3 linked regions of the Homo sapiens genome follow. The protein of the gene in region 2 interacts with the protein of the main gene of each other region in a biochemical or structural test. Each region holds a gene or a part of one and is shown on either strand. Other genes may lie near its edges.

Evidence for each region. The genes of interacting proteins can lie anywhere in the genome.
Region 1: the proteins of PARP1 (region 2) and H1-2 form a complex in vitro, tested with the Homo sapiens proteins (2 studies listed by BioGRID, with this or other methods).
Region 3: the proteins of PARP1 (region 2) and HMGA1 form a complex in vitro, tested with the Homo sapiens proteins (2 studies listed by BioGRID, with this or other methods).

What each region holds. Positions count from the first base shown.
Region 1 is NC_000006.12:26,055,240-26,060,307, forward strand, and holds H1-2 (histone H1.2), read right to left. Parts: upstream 1,232-5,068; 5' UTR 1,190-1,231; coding exon 548-1,189; 3' UTR 501-547; downstream 1-500. UniProt on the Homo sapiens protein: Histone H1 protein binds to linker DNA between nucleosomes forming the macromolecular structure known as the chromatin fiber. Histones H1 are necessary for the condensation of nucleosome chains into higher-order structured fibers.
Region 2 is NC_000001.11:226,397,460-226,405,630, forward strand, and holds part of PARP1 (poly [ADP-ribose] polymerase 1), read right to left. Parts: intron 4,921-8,171; coding exon 4,755-4,920; intron 1-4,754. UniProt on the Homo sapiens protein: Poly-ADP-ribosyltransferase that mediates poly-ADP-ribosylation of proteins and plays a key role in DNA repair.
Region 3 is NC_000006.12:34,239,873-34,246,731, forward strand, and holds the end of HMGA1 (high mobility group protein HMG-I/HMG-Y), read left to right. Parts: intron 1-800; exon of another isoform or gene 801-864; 5' UTR 865-908; coding exon 909-1,043; intron 1,044-2,839; coding exon 2,840-2,923; intron 2,924-3,595; coding exon 3,596-3,646; intron 3,647-4,958; coding exon 4,959-5,012; 3' UTR 5,013-6,359; downstream 6,360-6,859. UniProt on the Homo sapiens protein: HMG-I/Y bind preferentially to the minor groove of A+T rich regions in double-stranded DNA. It is suggested that these proteins could function in nucleosome phasing and in the 3'-end processing of mRNA transcripts.

The sequences.
Region 1 (5,068 bases), on a different chromosome or scaffold from region 2:
ACCAACAACATGGAAAGCGTCCGAAATCCCAGACATTAATATAAAGAGAAAAGAGGCAAAACTTTTAAGTCACAGTAAAGCAAAAAACACAGAATAAGCAACGTCTTCCACCATCCAATTAAATACAGAATGAAAGTCATGTACTAGAAGAACGGACCAACCCGGGAGCAGGGCGGGACTTTTGAAAATTTTTTAGTCCAATCCGGACATCCCTTTAGACTAAGAAACTGGCTCTTGTTTTGCGGTCTTTTCTGCCGTTCACAGGCCTGGGGCGGGACTGCCATCCCAAAACCATCCGCCAGCGAGAAAAGCCTCCGGTCAGGGACCTAGAAGCCGCAATAAAGGTTTAAATGCTGTAACCTCACCACGGCCACTCTCCAACCCCGTCACCCAATTCGTCTGATACCTCAGTAACTCCCATACGACTAACCTTAAGTAACAGGGCAGAACAAGAAAAGGCAGATAGTAAAGAAATTATCCAGCTCTTTTATTGAGATCAGTGGTGGCTCTGAAAAGAGCCTTTTGGGTTTTAGAAGTAGGCGTTCGCCTATTTCTTCTTGGGCGCCGCCTTCTTAGGCTTGACAACCTTGGGCTTAGCGGCCTTGGGCTTCACAGCCTTAGCAGCACTTTTGGCAGCTTTCTTGGGCTTCGCAACCTTGGCCTTCTTTGGGCTCTTAGCCACTTTCTTGGTTACAGTGGCCGCGGCCGGCTTCTTCGCTTTCTTCGGTGTTTTCTTAGCGCTCTTCTTCGGAGTTGCGCCGCCAGCCGCCTTCTTGGGCTTCTTGGCTGCCCCAACTGGCTTCTTAGGTTTGGTTCCGCCCGCCTTTTTAACCTTGGGCTTGGCTTCCCCGGAGGCTGCCTTCTTGTTGAGTTTAAAGGAGCCAGAAGCACCGGTGCCTTTCGTTTGCACCAGAGTGCCCTTGCTCACCAGGCTCTTGAGACCAAGTTTGATACGGCTGTTGTTTTTCTCCACATCATAGCCGGCGGCAGCCAACGCTTTTTTCAGAGCAGCCAGAGAAACTCCGCTACGCTCTTTAGAGGCGGCCACAGCCTTGGTGATGAGCTCTGACACCGGGGGACCAGACGCCTTACGAGGCGTACCCCCAGCCTTTTTGGCCGCCTTCTTCTTTACAGGGGCCTTCTCCGCAGGAGGCGCGGCAGCGGGAGCGGCAGGAGCAGTCTCGGACATGTTGAGAATCAAAAACTCGGGTACAAGTGGCAAAGCGCCGATGAAGCAGCGCCTGGGCAGGGCCGCTGTATATATAGAGCGCAGGCGCGCTCTGATTGGTGCTCTGGTCGCCCGCCTGGCTGGCAGGCTCTGAGCCGCTGCGCTGCTCCCAAGTTGTGTTTGTTCCACCTCACAAAAGGGGAAAAATATTAAAATTCCCCGCACCAAATCACTTGGGTTTGGTCAGGAAAGGATCTCAGAAGCCTCGGGCTTCATGCTCTTCATTTATTTTTTCCACAAACACAAAAACAACGCGTCCAGGCGTCCCCAATTCCCCCAACTCCGAAGGAAGTCTGGGGCAGTCAGAGACCACTTTCTGTTTTTCTTATAAATTACCTGTTCGCTCCTTTGCCCCTGAAGGTTCTTTTTCCCAGGGGTGGTTGGGCACATGCTTCCCTTATTTTTGAAGAAAAAAGCGAAATGGTTTCCACCTAAATTTTCATGATAATTCTGTTTCTTCACAAGGGAAGTAACACAGGTCCTCTGTGAATTCTTCGTGCAGTCGCACAGGAACTGTGGACTGGGACAAGGATTCCACGGCCAGTCCAAAGCAATTAGGGCGGGATGGGAGGGGGTTCATGAGCCTTGCTAGGGTCCGGGGTGGTGGGGGGCTACAGACTTAAATCTTTGATTTGAAGACATTGAAACTATCAAATCCCTCTTTTCATAGATGGGGGTGGGGCATCCTTTTCACTTCTCTACAGGCGAGAAATTGGGCTCTTTTTAAAGAGCTCTGAGGTCCCCCTCTGAGTTGTGTAAGGCAGGAGGTCTGGCCCTCAAGATAGAGATCATAAAGGAACAAGGGAGAGCCCTTAAGCCTGCAAAAAAGCCAATAGATTTGGCAGTTAGAGGCACTGAGATAATATGTTTTCAAAGAAAACAAGCATTTTTTATTTATTTATTTTTGTACGCTGCAATATAGAAATGAATTTCAGCCCATGAAAATTGTAGGTTACTTTCAGTAACCATACCTTACGCAAGTTACCATATAGGACAATCTCCAGTTGGGAACTCAAATATATCTTTTGAGTTGCAAATAAAGCAACTGACTTTAATAAAACACACTCTTGACTTTTAAGATGAACAATGTATTTGAAATTTATTTTTTTAAATAGCAAAATTTAACACAGAAAGACAAGAAAAGTACCAGAACATGTAATTTATTATAAGATCTGTTGTTGATGAGCTGAAAAATCACCTCTTCTCATCCCCTCTGAAACTATTCTGTTCTAAAGTTTGCTACTTTAAGGTTCACTACTTCTTATTTTACTCTCCGACCCCAAGTAATTGCTATTTTTTTCTTGAGATTAAAGGCAAAGTAAATTGTCTGCCCATATATTTGATATAATTATAGATTCATATTTAGGGACAAAGGTAATATTACAACTCCCCAACAATTTCTGCTCAAATATATGTTTTCATGAAAATATGTGTTAAAGAGAACAGCCTTAGATTGTGGGAAAGTCAAAAGGGAACCTACAAATAAGAGTTCAATGACAAATGAAAAGTGAAACATCTTTTAGACTAAGGGTGACCCCATTGTTTTATTAAATAACATTTGTCCAACATTTGTAAACATTGTCTGCTTGTGTGCTTATGTCCTCTGGGAATTAACAGTCTAATGAGATTAGTGATGGATGAATTAGCAGTGGTGGAAAAACACTTAGACCGGCTATTCCTCAGAGTGACAGGGTATAAGAATTATACAAAATTATGGAAAGTGTATAAACAATTGAAGCACCTGCATCATACTAATATATTGTAGTAAAAGAAATAATATAAGGCTGGGCCCCGTGGCCCACGCCTGTAATCCTAGCACTTTGGGAGACTCGGGGGCGGATCACCTGAGGCCAGGAGTTTGAGATCAGCCTAGCCGACATGGTGAAACACCATCTCTACTAAAAGTACAAAAATTAGCTGGGGGTGGTGGCACTCAGGAGGCTGAGGCAAGGGAATCGCTTGAACCCGGGAAGCAGAGGTTGCAATGAGCCGAAATGACGCCACTGCACTCCAGCCTGTGCAACAGGGTGAGACTCAGTCGAAAAAAAAAGAAAGAAAGGAACAATATAAGAACATGTCACTTAGGCCAGGCTTGGTGGCTCACGCCTGTAATCCTAGCACTTTGGGAGGCTGAGGCGGGCAGATCGCCTGAGGTCAGGAGTTCGAGACCAGCCTGGCCAGCATGGTGAAACCCCATCTCTACTAAAAAAAATACAAAAATTAGCCTGGCGTGGTGGCAGGCAACTCTAATCCCAGCTACTCAGGAAACTGAGGCAGGAGAATCATTTGAACCCGGGAGGTGGAGGTTGCAGTGAGCCGAGATTGCCTCGTTGCACTCCAGAAGCCGAGATTGCCTCATTGCACTCCAGAAGCCGAGATTGCCTCATTGCACTCCAGCCTGGGCAACAGAGCAAGACTCCATGTCAAAAAAAAAAAAATAAAATAAACATTTCACTTAGATCTTATTCTATGTGCAATGAACCCCCTTCTCATTTAAAACTCAGCTAAGTATATCCATCATGAAAATAGCTATGAAACGTCTTGATTACCAGGTAACTGGACCTTCTTTCACTATAAATTGGTGTCCTGGTTTATAAATCGACATGTAAATTTAATCGCTGTGATTCAGTTCTCTAATATGATTTTTCTAGTCGACTCAATCTAATCACATCTCTTTATATGCAAATCTCAAGTCCAGACCTCAAGCCATTAGGACATCCAGCCACCCAGAATCTTGTCCCCAACCTCCTGGCAACATGGTGGAGGCCAGAAGACAGAGAAACATGTAACCAACCCTTTTCTAGATCCTTTATAAAGTGTGTTGAAAAAGTTATGCAAAACTTAAAAGCAACGCAAAAATATTTCTCCATATCCTTCCAAGCTATATTAGAGAATTATCTAAAAAGCCTACTTATGGGGTACCTGATGATGTAAGGCAATACTAGACAGTAAAATAGAATGTGAATCACATAAATACTTTCCAGATTTCTAGTGGTCACATTGAAAGAATGAAAAGAAACAAGTAAAATTAATTTTAAGATATTTTATTTAACTTAATATATCTAAACTATTATCACTTCAACATATAATAAATAAGCTAAAAAAAAAGACAGTTGACATTCTTTTTTAAATGATAAATCTTCAGAACCTGGTGTGTATTTTACACTTTTAGAACATTTTAAATCAGTCTAGCTATAGTCCAAATGGTCAATGATCACGTGTAGCTAGTGGTACCTTATTGGACAACACTGTCCTACGTGAAAGTAACTCTGACTTAATGTTTACATTTTATTGGGTCCAGACTATCTAAAAGTAAACATTCACTTGTAGAAGTTTAATAAATTAATAAGGATTTTGTCATAGAGATGGAAATGAATTCTTAATATAGAAAAAATGACCCTAAAAGTTATTATTGTATTGCCTAATAAGTCATTAAACAACTTTATATCTGATTTTCCCTTCCTCTTCCAGTATACATCCTTTCCCTGACCAAATACATATTTTATTCTCCCGTATCTTCCTTTGACCTAATTGTGATTCTGCTTCCTCCTTCATTAATGAATTAAATCATTCATTGACACATACACAAGCTCACTATATATAGTACATATATGTCAGTCATGTTTTTAACTTCCTGAATGTTGTACTTTGACACTTGGTTGTTCAATTTCGCCTAAGAGCTCTGAATCAGAACCTTTAGAAGCCATTCTGAAAAACTGGAAGATACAAAGCTTTTGACTATCAACTCCATAGCAACCTGATATCTGGTTGGTGTTCCATGGAAACTGTATTTCTCAAATTTTGAAATAAGATTGAACAAGCCTGTGAGCAACAACAAAA
Region 2 (8,171 bases):
GCTGCAAGGGCAGACAGTGATATGGTTTGGATCTGTGTCCCCACTAAATCTCCTATCAAATTATAATCCCGAATGTTGGAGGTGGGGCCTGGTGGGAGGTCACTGGATCACCGGGACAGATTTCTCCCTTGGTGCTGTGTCATGATACTTGTGAGTTCTCCTGAGATCTGGTTGTTGAAAAATGTGTAGCACCTCCCCTTTCACTCTCTTCCTCCTGCTCCGGCCATGTCAACTGCCGGCTTCTCCTCTGCCTTCTGCCATGACAGTAACAAGGTTGGAGGACTGACACTACCCAACCTAAAGACTTACTATGAAGCCACAGCAGTCAACACAGTGTGGTACTGGCAAAAGGATACGTAGATCAGTGGGACAGAACAGGGAGCCCAGAAACAGAGCCACACAAGCACAGTCCACTGATCTTTGACAAAAAAGTAAAGGCAAAAATGGAGAAAAGATAGTCTTTTCAACAAACGGAGCTGTAACAACTGGACATCCACATGCGAAAAAAAAAAAAGAAAAAAAATAAAGGAATCTAGACACAGACCTTACACCCTTCACAAAAAGTAACCAAAATGGATAACAGACCTAAATGTAAGACACAAAACTGTTAAACTTCTAGAAGAAAATCTATATGACCTTGGGTCTGGTGATGACTTTTTACAAACACCAAAAGCCCAATCCACTAAAGAAGTAACTGATTAACTAGACTTCACAAAATTAAGAACTTCTGCTCTGCGGAAGACCAGCCACACACTGAGAAAAAATATTTTCAAAAGACATATGACAAAGGGCTGTTATCCAAAATATACCAAGAACTCTTAGGACTCAACAGTAAGAAAACAAACAATGTGATTTTAAAAAGAGCAAAACCAGGAGTTTGAGACCAGTCTGGGCAACAAGGTGGGGCCCTGTCTCTACAAAAAATTTAAAAAAATTAGCCAGGCATGGTGGTGCGCACCTGTAGTCCCAGCTACTCAAGAGGCTGAGGTGGGAGACAGAGGTCAAGGCTGCAGCGAACTGTGATCACACCACTGCACTCTAGCCTGGGCGACGGAGCAAGACAGTCTTAAAAAAAAAAAAAAAAAGTGGGGGTAGGGGCAGGCAAAAGACATTTCACCAAAGATATACAGATGGTAAATAAACGTATGAGAAGATGTTCAAGATAATTACAGTATTAGGGAAATGCAAATTAAAACAATAATAAAATACTATATATCTATTGGAATGGCCAAAATCCAAAACAATGATAACACCAAATGCTGGCAAAGATGTATAATGATACGAACTCTCATCTATTGCTGGTGGGAATGGAAAATGATTCAGCTTTTTGAAAGACAGCTTGGCAGTTTCTTACAAAACTAAATATACTCTTACCACATGATCCAGCAATTGTACTCCTTGATTACCCAAAGGAGTTGAAAACTTATGTCCCCATAAAAACCTGCACATGGTGGGTGTTTCTAGCAGCTTTGTTCATAATCACCAAAACTTGGAAGCAATCAAGATGTCCTTCAGCAGGTCAATGAATAAACAAACTGTGGTAATCCAGACAATGGAATATTATTCAGTAATAAAAAGAAATGAGCTATCAATACGACAAGACATGGAGGAATCTTTTTTTTTTTTTTTTTTTGAGATGGAGTTTCGCTCTGTTGCCAGGCTGGAGTGCAGTGGCATGATCTCGGCTCACTGCAACCTCCGCCTCCCAGTACAACCAATTCTCCTGTCTCGGCCTCCCGAGTAGCTGGGACTACAGGTGCACACCACCACACCGGCTAATTTTTGTATTTTTAATAGAGACAGGGTTTCACCATATTGGCCAGGCTGGTCTCGAACTCCTGACCTCGTAATCTGCTGGGCTCGGCCTCCCAAAGTGCTGGGATTACAGATGTGAGCCACCGTGCCCGGCTCGACATGGAGGAATCTTAAGAGCACATTGCTAGTGAGAGAAGCCAATCTGAAAAGGCTACCTTCTGTATGATTCCAACTATATTATATTCTGGAAAAGGAAAAACTATGGAGAAAGCAAAAAGATCAGTGGTTACTGGAGGTTAGAGGGGAGGGAGGAATGACTAGGCAAAGCACAGAGATTTCCCAGGCAGTGAAAGGACTCTGGAGGCTACCATAAAGGTACATGCATGTCAATGTATGTTTGTTAAAACTGACAGAATGTACAATGCAAAGAGTGAGCCCTCATGTAAACTACAGACCTCGAGGGATAACGATGTGTCAATGTGGCTCATCAGTTATAACCATGGACCACTCCGATAACGATGTGTCAATGTAGCTCATCAGCTATAACCATGGACCACTCTGGTGGCGATGTTGATTGTGGACAAAAGTCTGTGTATGTGTGGGGTGGGTAGGGCTAGCGGGTATATGGAAACTCTGTACTTTACTCAATTTTGCTGTGAACCTAAAACTGCTATAAGAAAAAAAGTCTACATACAGAAGAATGTCATGAACCTGGGAGGCGGAGCTTACGGTGAGCCGAGATCACACCACTGCACCCCAGCTTGGGTGACAGAGCGAGAATCCGTCTCCAACAACAACGAAAAAAGTTTACATATAAAAAAAGGTTAAACAGACAATGGAACAGAAATTTTTAAAAGGACCCCAAAATACAGAGATTTTGTGCATGATACAAGACACCTCTCAATGGGGGAGATGAATAAGCCAATAAACAAAGTACAAAAAATTAGCTGGGCATGGTGGCAGGCACCACGCTACTCGGGAGGCTGAGGCAGGAGAATCGCCTGAACCCGGGAGGCGGAGGTGGCAGTGAGCCAAGACCATGCCACAGCACTCCAGCCTGGGCAACAGAGTGAGACTCCATCTCGAAAACAAAACAAAAACAAAAACAACAACAAAAAAACAAAGTAGGGAAACTAGATCATCATCTGGAAAAAAATAAAACTGGAGTCACGCCTCACACCACACATCAGCACACACCGGGATAACTCTCAAATAGAGTAAACATTTAGATGTTAAAAGAAATAAGGAACCATAAAATTACACGTACTGGATGTAGTTCATCTGTATCCCCAGGGTGGGCTACCTGACAGTGGCTGCTGGTGCCACAGCCTTGTTCCCTAGCACTGTCACTGCCTCAGGGTAAGGGCCACACCCTGGCATACCCACCCTGTAGTGACCACCACAGTAACAAACACAGCACTGTCACCAACAGGCCAACTCTTTCAAAACCAGGGACTGAGAGTCCTCCCGCCACTTCCAGATCTAGAGGCAGCTCTGGCTGCAGGGCGTGACTGTGCAGAGGCCAGGAACACAGTCTGGAAGTGCAGAGAACCACAGCACCTCCAGCGAGCTAAAACCAATGAGAAACAAGAGGCAGAAAGAACCAATGGATAATGCTGCTCCCTTCCTCCTGCTCCGAGGGGCTTTTCTGAAGCTTAGTGGCAAAGGACTTGCGTGAGGGCATCCTGCATGACCAAGCCATTGGCTGTTTCTCATGAAGCCATGGCCAGCTTGACAGCGTATGGCACTGTGCTTGCCCTCCTGCCTCCCCTTCCTCCCTCTCTCTTGCTGCCCTAGGATTACCTCTCCTAATAAAGCTTTTAATAGCTTTGCTTTCTGCTCTGCTATGTCACCTGACGTGACCTGTACTAAGACATGGGAGAAGACATAAAAGGAGAAAACTGTGGAGACAGTAAAAAGAGCAGTGGTTGTCAGGAATTAGGAGGGATAAACAGGGGATTTTTAGAGCAGTGAAACTGATGCAGGGCAGGCCAGCCCTAAATTGGGGATTGGCCTGGGCGGGTCCTTGGCTTCGCTCTGGAAAGCATTTAAGAGCGAGCTCGTGGTAGAAGAAAGCAGCTTTATTGAGGCAGCAGTGTTATGGCTCTGTGACTGCTCCTGCAGAGCAGGGCTACCCCACAGGCACTGTGCTGAGAGCAGCAGCTCAAAGGCAGTTCTGAAGTCATATTTACACCCACTTTTAATTATATGCAAATTAAGGGGCAGACTATGCAGACATGTTAAGAAACGGGGTGGTAACTTTTAGGTCATCAGATTGTTGTCACAGAAAGGGGTGGTAACTTCCGGGTATTGCCATGGCAATGGTAAACTGATATGGCACACTGGTGGGTGTTTTATGGAAAGCTGCTTCGTCCCTGTCCCTGCTTTAGTTAGTCCTCGGTTTGGTTTGGTGTCTGAGCCCCACCTCCTACCTCATTCCCCTCTCAGAGATGAGCTATTCTTCCTTAATCTTAAGGGGGCTGCAGAAGGGTGCAGGTCTGAAACTACTCTGTATGATACTATAATGGCAGATGCATGTCATCATACATTTGTCCAAACCCATAGAATGTAGAGCATCAGGAGTTTCTGGACTCTGGGCAATAATGATGTGTCAGTGTAGGTTCCTCAATTATAACAAATGTACTACTCTGGTGGGAGGTGTTGACAAGGAAGAGCCTGTGTGGTGGGAGGGGGAGGGGGTACTGGAAACTCTTTGTTCTTTGCTTACTTTTGCCATGAACAAAAATAAAGTATATTAAAAACAAAACAACTTTAAAGGCTACATTCCAAGCACCTGGAAAAACAAAATACCAAATATCATGCAACAGATGATGCTGAGTCCAGGAGGTGTTGCTGAAATAACATGGGCACCATACGCTTGATCTGCACATGTGGGAGAGGGCAAGCTGGGGGAGGTTTGCTTTGCTCTCTGAGACGAGGCCCTCCTGGGAGCTTCAGGGTGGGGGCTGAATGCCCATGCTGCCCCAGTATGTACACACCTGTCACTCCTCCAGCTTCCGCTGTCTTCTTGACTTTCTGCTGGTCATCCCACCGAAGCTCAGAGAACCCATCCACCTCAACGTCAGGGTGCCGGATGGAGTGGCCCACCTTCCAGAAGCAGGAGAAGTGGTACCAGTGTGGGACTTTTCCATCAAACATGGGCGACTAGAAGGAAGAGAAACAGAGGGAAGTAAGTAAGCAGTTAACTTTTGACTTAGACCCACTAGACCTTGACCTTGACCTCGACCCCAGTCCCAGCCCCAGCAGTGGGATAGCACATGAAACTTTTGTTCTCCTATCTGTGAAAGGAGGACAGCCTCCGCTCTCACATGAAGAGCTGCAGCATCCTTCTCACGATCTTCCCCAAGGGTCAGAAGACTGTAGCCCACTGTTCTTGAGCTCATTCTCTTAGGACACCAAACACAGCCACGAGAAAGGTGGCCTTTTACCACTGAGCTCTGCCCCACGTCCCTTTTGACCACACACTGCTACATTTAGTGGTGAGCTGCCTCATGGCCTAGTGAAATGCACAGAAGACACTTGTGCAGAGTCACAATCCTGCAGCATCTGCTGGGAATGGCCAGACAACTGCTCCAGGCTTGCCTGGACTCAAAGGGCCTGTGTGCCCCAGAAAAGGGCTCTTTAAGTGCCTCTGCAGTTAAGAATAACAAGGAACAAGTCCCAGATAATGAGCAAAGCAGAGAAAGTGTGTCAGAAAAAAGTGTCAAGCTTGCAGCAGCCACACAGATGGGAGTGGAATGAATGGAGGTCTTTGAGGCAACTGTGACAGCGGATGGTTCGGGGCAGCATGCCTAGAGCTGGAGTCAGCTGCTCACTGGCCTTCTGGGGCGCAGTTTCCCAGGCGTAGGACCTGAGAAGTCTGGCCACAGGGAACACAGTTCCCCTCTCCAGGTGGTTTGCTTCCCACTAGGCCTTTCATTGTGACAGGGTCAGGTTCTGCTCCCAGGCCTCGAGCACTGTCTGGCTTTGTTTTTGAGACCGAGTCTTGCACTGAGTGCAGTGGTGCGATCTCAGCTCACTGCAACCTCTGTCTCCTGGGTTCAAGCGATTCTCCTGCCTCGGCCTCCTGAGTAGCTGGGACTACAGGCACGTGCCACCCATGCCTGGCTAATTTTTGTATTGTTAGTAGCAATGGGGCTTCACCATGTTGGCCAGGCTGGTCTCGAACTTCTGACCTCGTGACCCGCCCGCCTCGGCTTCCCGAAGTGCTGGGATTACAGGCATGAACCACTGCACCCAGTCCTGGCTTTACAGAGTGGACGGTGACAGCGATTGGGAAGAAGGGGAAGACACAGTATGTAGTGTGTGTCCCTGCTCCTTTCATAAGCCATCCTGTGTAATCCCACAATCTGCCTCTGGGTGGGAACCAGCCCTTTCATTCACAGATGGAGACAGTGGGGCTGGAAATCCTTGCCTGGGGGGTTGGGAGTCACAGAGGCAGCAAATGAATGATTTGACACTATGATTCCTCCCACCACACTCCACTGCCCGGCAGGAAGAGCTACTTAAAAATACACCAACTGTGATCTGACTAAAGTAAGGGAAGTCCCAAACATCTGCTTTTATAGAACATAAAGCTAAATGTCACACAGATGCAATAAGACTATTAAAACAGCATTAAAAGTAAATGTGCTGAATTTTTAGGATGGAGTTGCGGGGACAGGGAAAATACTCTGGAAAAGCAATGATAAGGTACCCCACTATCTCTCTCCACTGTGAGTGGCCTCTTTCTGGATGTGATGTATTAAAATGCACAGCTAAGACTATGGCAGCACAAGGACTCCTCAACATCAGCTTTCCCCTGGGTCTGGAATGCTCTCCAGCCCTGTTCAGAGCACTCCCTCAGATCTCCCAATGCTCCTTCCACAGCTCCCCTCACTAAGAACTATGCATTTGGTGATTATTTCATAAGGGCCTATCTTGCTATTCTCTAGCAACATGTCACAGAGGGCACGCAGTGTTTGCTTAGGGCTCCAAGTCAGATGGAACAAAAAAGGAAGGATGGGGAAATTCCTGCTGTAGAAGAGACAACAAATGGCATTTCTGAGAGCATACTCATGTTCCAACTCTCAAACGTTCCACCAGATCTCAATTAGGCTGCTGATACAGATCCCTAAGCATCTGGCTATCATGGAATATTTGCAATGGCCTCGACCTGGCTCTGCCTGCTTGTCTACCCCTTGTCTACCCTTCCTGTGCAATGTTCCAGTTACCCTTGTATAAAGAGCACAGGTAATGGCTATGGCACTTCTTCCTGGCTCTGCCAGGGGCCCCAGACCTGCTGCCCTTTGGTCTGGGTGCTGTCTCCCCCAACCACCGGCACAGTGCTGGACACCCTGGAGGTGCTGCCCAATGGTGCAATCACAGCACAAGCTTAGAGGACAAGAGCCTCAGCAGAAGCACCCCTGACCAAAGCAATGCTTTGCCCTAAACTCAGGACTGAGAATGATGTGGCAGAAAGGCACCAAACCAAGGTCACAAGACTATCGACTCCATTTGTTAGCTGCACAGCTGAGGCAAGGCACAGAATCTTTGGCTGTGCACCCAAGCAAAAACTGAGCACCTAACATACCAGGGTCCTCACCCAACCAGCAGCTGGTGAACTGGGTTCCCTTCTGTGCAGAACAGGCCATGCTACCTGTCCACCTAGGCCACAGAGAGAATGAACTGACCTCACTGCATGCCTCCGGGTGCTCAAACCCTCCCAGGACAGAGCAACTCAAAGGTCTACCGCCATCCTCCTCCCACCAAAATGCTGGAGGGCCCAGCTCATCCCTCCCAAGATGCCCCAGGCATGAGGGCTAAAGTGTCAGGTATCAGATACTCAGAGAACAATACTCCCATGTAAATGTAAAAGAAGGTATTTAAATTCAAGCAAGTGAAAAGGCTTCTTTCTTTTTGGCCTTCACCAGCTCAGTCTACCAGACCAACTTTAAATTCTGAATTAAAACTCTGAATCCACCCTTAATCACCATTACATAAAAATCACAGTTACTTTTAATAATAAAGAGTTTCTTTCACTATCAAGTATACCAAAGGAAAGCCCAGAATGTTGTTATTACTATTTTTTTTTTCAGACAGGGTCTGGGTCTGGGTCTGGGTCTGTCGCCCAGGCTGGAGTGCAGTGGCACTATCTCAGCTCACTGCAACCTCCACCTCCCAGGCTCAAGCAATCTTCCAGCTTCAGCCTCCGGAGTAGCTGGGACTTAACAGGCACGCACCACCACGACCCGCTAATCATTGCATTTTTTTGTAGAGACAGGTTTCACCATGTTGGCCAGGCTGGTCTCAAACTGCTGAGCTTAAGTAATCTGCCCACCCCAGCCTCCCAAAGTGCTGAGATTACAAGCATGCGCCACCAAGCCCGGCCCCAGAATGCTAAACTTGATCAGGTT
Region 3 (6,859 bases), on a different chromosome or scaffold from region 2:
AGGATGAGCCCTAAACCTCATCCTAAAGGATGAGGGCCAGCCAGGGTCTGTTAGGCGGTGCATTTCAGTTGGAGAATTCCCTACCCATCTGACAAAGTCCCATCTGACTCCAGTTGGGCAGAGGAGGGGTAAGGGGAAAGAGGAGGGTGGCCTTTGGCTTTGGGCTCACTTTCCTCCCCCACCTCACCCACTAGCTTCAACCATCTCCTCCCTCCCTCAATTATACCAATCTGAATTCTCCAGGGATTTACCCTGGGTGAGAACAGAGAAGAGAGCTGGTGGTGGGCACCACCCCTGGCTGTGTGATTGGCTCTTTTTGGTCCTGAGTCTTGCACCTTGCCAGATAGGCAATATTGTCAGTGAGGTGGGCAGGGGATCAATGTCCATAGCTGCCAGATCGCAAGGTCTCATTCTTTCCATTTTCCCACTGAACTGCGTAGGCTGGATTTTCTCTTAAAGAGAAAGGGCAGCAGTTGACTACAGAAGGAGGGGATGCTGGCAATACGTCAGATCTCACCTCCCCACACCTTTGTCCCAGGGTGGCCTCACCCATGTAGCTAGGTCTGGGCTGGCTGTACCTCCTGGGACCCCCCCCACCACGCTGCACTGGGGCGGTGTTAAGGCAGGACAACAAAGAGCCCTTCTGAACAGGAGATAGATAAGAAGCTGATTAGGGCCAACGGCCCTTCCCCGCCCTTGGCAGCATCTGGGGGTGGGCAGACCCCTCCATCCTGGGCAGAGTAGGAGGCCTGGGGGCCCATGGGAGCACAGTTTTCTGCAGTGTGCCTTGAAGGTGTGGGTGATGAGGGGGTAGAAAGTGGCTGAAGCGAGATGTTTGTCTAAAAGCACTTTTCTGTCTCCCAGCATCCCAGCCATCACTCTTCCACCTGCTCCTTAGAGAAGGGAAGATGAGTGAGTCGAGCTCGAAGTCCAGCCAGCCCTTGGCCTCCAAGCAGGAAAAGGACGGCACTGAGAAGCGGGGCCGGGGCAGGCCGCGCAAGCAGCCTCCGGTGAGTCCCGGGACAGCGCTGGTAGGGAGTCAGGTGGGTGTCCAAACCTTTGCTTCACTTGGTTTACCCTTTGGGGCTAGGGAGGTGCCTGGAGTTTCATTCAGCAGGCGAGACCATGCATGGAGGGTGCAGAATGATTCTGCGCAGTAAGCGTGTGGGTGTGTCCTCCCACCTGTGTGTACTCCTGCCCCACTTGCAACCCTGGTCAGATCTCTATAGAGACCCCAGGAGAGAACCGGGGGCCGAGGAATTCAAGATAAATTCTGAAGCCAATGGCAAACAGTCCAAACCTAAAGCACCCCAGAGGTCACATGGCCAGTGCTTAAAACACTCGCCTTTTTCTTAATTTCCAATCCACTGTGGACCAGTAATTTTAAAATGCAGTAAAGACGAATGAACAAAAATGAACATAGAAGCCCAGGGTTTTTAATCATTAGATTCAGTGCACGTAAAATGATTTTTGTCAATTTGCTGTAAAGTTGCTGAATACTTATGGTCGATTCTTGTACTTCCTCATCCCAGGTGAGAAACGGGTGCCTGCGTGGGCCAGCACCTGTTTGTGCACAGGCCAGTTATGAGTAGTTCTGGAATGGGCATTGCCCCTGGCTCTTTAGATGGAAATTGAAGCCCAAGAAGTCAAAAATGTTGGGGAGTTGGTGGCAGTGACCCTCAGAACCCTGGTGCTGCTCTCCCCACAAAGTCCTCATAGAAGGATGAGGCTGCCAGCCTGGCGCTGTGGGGCACCCTAGGGAGCATGGCCATTTGGGCATGGGGGGGACCCCATATTGGCCTCTTACAGAGGCAGCTGTCACCCAAGTGAAGGGTGGCTGTTGGTGAAGCCCAGTTACTTCCCTTCCCTGGGAGAGAGGTAAGAGGAGTTGAGTTCGACCTCTGCCCCTTAAACATGATACAGGTTGTTCACCTGCAGGTTTTCCCTGTCCGTACGGTGGAGAGTGGTCTGTGCTGACCTGGGCCCAGGGAGACACGAGCTGTGAGGAGTCTGCTGTGTTGGAATTCAGAGCCTGGGGTGGGGTCATTTGTCCTCTTAGCCTAGCTCCCTCAGCCTCCCCTCCTACCCCACCTGTTAGCCATGGTCAGTGGGAGGTGTCAGGAGGGGTGCAGGGTTACTGGACCCTGGTTATAGACAGACCATGGGCGGCCCCCTAGGAAACAGTAGCTGGCGCGCCTTCACCACACACCTTATATGCATTATGCAGCAGCTTTTTATTCTATCTACGGCTTATTAAAATTTCAGTGGGAATGATGGCAGGGATCTCTGGAGTCCGGCTATAATTCCCCTTCTCTGGGGGCAGCCTGGATGGGCTCCAGGTTTGCAAGTGCAGGCAGGGAGTGTGTGTCCAGCATAGGTCATCTGAGAGGGTGGGCAGTGATCATGGCCCAGTGCTAGATAACCATACATTACCCATTTAATCTCCATGACACCCTGCAAGGGAAGTCTTCACCATTTATAGATGAGGAAACTGAGGCTCCAGCATTAAGTGTCCCACCCAAGATAAGTGTCAGAACTGAGACTTGGGCAGAGCCACCTAACTGTCTTTCTGTCCCCAGAATGCCTTTCCTAGGGGTCTTCTGGGCTCTTGTCATTTTGCATCTTAGAAACCTGCAGGGAAGCAAGGGGAGAGGTGGGAGGCACTTTGCAAAGATGCTCAAACTGGAGCTTTGGATCCTGAAGGGATTCCTAGGTCAGGGATGGTTTGTGGTTCTTGGTTCTTGCTGACTTAACCTTGTTGAGGAGGCAGAGGGCTGTGTCTTCTGAGGGGGTGGAAACAGGTGATGACTGTCCCTGACTACCCCCTCTGTCTTTACAGAAGGAGCCCAGCGAAGTGCCAACACCTAAGAGACCTCGGGGCCGACCAAAGGGAAGCAAAAACAAGGGTGCTGCCAAGACCCGGGTGAGACTTGAGATGGGACTACCCCTGGGTGGATGACTAGCAGAGGATCCTCTTGTTGGCACCATGGCCACGGCTGTGGGGAGGTCTGGGAAGGGGCTCAGTCATCTCAGTTGTGTACCCCCTTCCCTGGTACAGGGATGGCAGTGAGTCTTTGCTAACTGGGGAGAGTGGGGCGATGACTAAGGTCTTACTTCTGGGGGGTTGGTCCTGCCCAGGACACTGCGGAGATCAGGTCAGAAGTCCCACAGCTTTCCTGATCTAGAGAAGGGCAGAGTGGGGAGAATGGAGGGTCCCTGCCAGTCCCTGGGCTGAGAATGTTACCTTCTCTTGGGGTTCCCTGGAGCCTGAAGGGGTGGGGACAGGCAGCAAAGGCCAGATTCACAGTGACATTAGCCTTTCAGAAAAGTTGTTTTGTTTTTTATTTTATTTTTTCTAAGACACGACTCATATCCTCTGAGTCATGGGCGGAGGTGGGAGTAGGGGGCGTGTGTGTATGTCGAGGGGGCAAATGTGGCTGGCCAGTCATTGCCAGCTGGACTTGGGTGGGCCTGTTGGGTGAGAGTGTTGGGTCACCCTGAACAGGCAGGTAGGTCTGCCCCCCATCACTATTGGGCATCGGGTGAGCACTGATGAGCATTTTGGACTTAGGAGATATTTTCTCTAACCCTCTAGAAAACCACCACAACTCCAGGAAGGAAACCAAGGGGCAGACCCAAAAAACTGGTAGGTGAAGAAGCAGACTGCTGCTTGCCTCCTGGGCTCTTTTGAGTTGAGGGTGTTGAGTACACAGTACCTGATGCTATGCACCCCCTATGGAAAGGCTCTCCTTGACCTGCTGGGACATCAGATTTTACAGAAGTCCAGAGAGGGGAAGGTACCTGGCCTGGGCTGTGCCCATGAGAAGTGAGGGGTCCCAGGTATAAATCAGACCACATCCCCCTGCCCTGCCCTGCCCTAGTTGTGTGTGGGGGTCCCTCCCTCTCCTGCTCCTAGAATACTCAGAACTTCTAGGGGAGATCTTGGAAGTCATCTAGCCTGTGTCCCCCTCAATTAGAGATGAGGAAAGGAAGCCATAGGGGGAAGGTTTGTCCTTCCTATGAGCCTCTGCAGAAGAGAAACAGCGAAGGAGCTGGGCCCTGGGAGGGGTCGGTGCTGGAGTTCTGATGTGACCCACCACACTGCACTGGAGGGCACCATCCAATTCTGGGTCCCCAAACAGCTGGTGGAAAGGCTCGGTGGGCTGAGTCAAGAAGCTGCCTCTAGGGGGCCACTGCAGTTAGGGTCACCCCAGCCTTCCAGCTCCTGGCCCTCTCCTACCCCCAGCCTGCCCCCTCAAATCCCTGAAGCTGTCATTCCTTGAGCTGAGCCACTGCTGGGGTGGGGGGGTTAGGGGGTGCTGCTGGCCAGGCCCCAAGAGTGAGTAACAGGAAACAAGTTGTTTTGGAGTTTGTGCCTGGCACGGGGGCTGTAGCCCCGTGTGGTGTCCCGACATTCCCGCCCAGTGAGTGAGCCCCGGCGGCACACACTTCCCCTTCCTCCCCACCCCGGCCTAGGGTCAGCCCTCGGCCACCCCGGAGGGCCAGGGCACCACAGCACAGCATCTGCCCCTGTGGGCCAAGGACCTGGTTCCCCTGCACCCACCAGCGGGCTCTTGCACCTTCCAGCCACCCCTTCCCATTTCCTCCCCCAGCCACCTCTTCCCCCACCTCCTCTTCTCCCCTAGGGAGTCAGTCACATCCTGAAGCTCATTGCTGCCCTGAGCTCTGCCCTCCTGCCCTCCCTGGGCCTGGGGGCCAAGGGGGCTTGGCTCCTGGCTCTGGGTGAGAGCAGCATGTGTGTGGGGTTTTTTCCTCCTTTTAAATTCTTTTTATGAATGAAGCCGGGCCGTGGAGGTTGCTGAGTCACCCACACACTCAGCCCTGACTCATCCCTCTTCAGGAGAGCCAGGGAGTGCAGGGAGCGGGTGGGGCCAGCCTCTGGGGGTGGAAGAGGGGGACCGGGCCAGAGCTCACACCAACAACTGCCCACCTCACAGGAGAAGGAGGAAGAGGAGGGCATCTCGCAGGAGTCCTCGGAGGAGGAGCAGTGACCCATGCGTGCCGCCTGCTCCTCACTGGAGGAGCAGCTTCCTTCTGGGACTGGACAGCTTTGCTCCGCTCCCACCGCCCCCACCCCTTCCCCAGGCCCACCATCACCACCGCCTCTGGCCGCCACCCCCATCTTCCACCTGTGCCCTCACCACCACACTACACAGCACACCAGCCGCTGCAGGGCTCCCATGGGCTGAGTGGGGAGCAGTTTTCCCCTGGCCTCAGTTCCCAGCTCCCCCCGCCCACCCACGCATACACACATGCCCTCCTGGACAAGGCTAACATCCCACTTAGCCGCACCCTGCACCTGCTGCGTCCCCACTCCCTTGGTGGTGGGGACATTGCTCTCTGGGCTTTTGGTTTGGGGGCGCCCTCTCTGCTCCTTCACTGTTCCCTCTGGCTTCCCATAGTGGGGCCTGGGAGGGTTCCCCTGGCCTTAAAAGGGGCCCAAGCCCCATCTCATCCTGGCACGCCCTACTCCACTGCCCTGGCAGCAGCAGGTGTGGCCAATGGAGGGGGGTGCTGGCCCCCAGGATTCCCCCAGCCAAACTGTCTTTGTCACCACGTGGGGCTCACTTTTCATCCTTCCCCAACTTCCCTAGTCCCCGTACTAGGTTGGACAGCCCCCTTCGGTTACAGGAAGGCAGGAGGGGTGAGTCCCCTACTCCCTCTTCACTGTGGCCACAGCCCCCTTGCCCTCCGCCTGGGATCTGAGTACATATTGTGGTGATGGAGATGCAGTCACTTATTGTCCAGGTGAGGCCCAAGAGCCCTGTGGCCGCCACCTGAGGTGGGCTGGGGCTGCTCCCCTAACCCTACTTTGCTTCCGCCACTCAGCCATTTCCCCCTCCTCAGATGGGGCACCAATAACAAGGAGCTCACCCTGCCCGCTCCCAACCCCCCTCCTGCTCCTCCCTGCCCCCCAAGGTTCTGGTTCCATTTTTCCTCTGTTCACAAACTACCTCTGGACAGTTGTGTTGTTTTTTGTTCAATGTTCCATTCTTCGACATCCGTCATTGCTGCTGCTACCAGCGCCAAATGTTCATCCTCATTGCCTCCTGTTCTGCCCACGATCCCCTCCCCCAAGATACTCTTTGTGGGGAAGAGGGGCTGGGGCATGGCAGGCTGGGTGACCGACTACCCCAGTCCCAGGGAAGGTGGGGCCCTGCCCCTAGGATGCTGCAGCAGAGTGAGCAAGGGGGCCCAAATCGACCATAAAGGGTGTAGGGGCCACCTCCTCCCCCTGTTCTGTTGGGGAGGGGTAGCCATGATTTGTCCCAGCCTGGGGCTCCCTCTCTGGTTTCCTATTTGCAGTTACTTGAATAAAAAAAATATCCTTTTCTGGACTGGAGTCTCCTGTGGTGTGTGCCCCTAAAGCCTGGGGCAGGTAGGATGGGTGACACTTGTGTTCTGGCCCCCATCCTTCAGGCTGCAGGAAGGGAGGGGAAATAGCACTGGAATCACCTCCGGGGAAGGTCATTTTAAGCCTCTTGATGAAATCAAAACCCCTAGCCACAAAACATTTTATTTACAAAATATATACTGAATACTATACATCTGGCCCCATCACCATGGAAACAACTCCAAAGCCTGCCTGGGGATTTGTGCCCAAGCCCAGCCCAGGAGGGCTAGAGAAAGCAAAGGTGTCTACCAGCCGCCCCCATCCCAGAAGGAAAGCCTCTTCCCATGAGTGCCTGTGGGTGGGCGGTGAGCTCAACACCCACAAAGGGCAGAAGGCCTGGGGGCAGTGAGGTGATGGTGAGGGCATGGGAAGCAGATGCTGCTGAGGGTGGGTGGAGGGAGAAATGGAGACCCAGCACCCAGCAGGGGGAGCCAGGTGACAGCA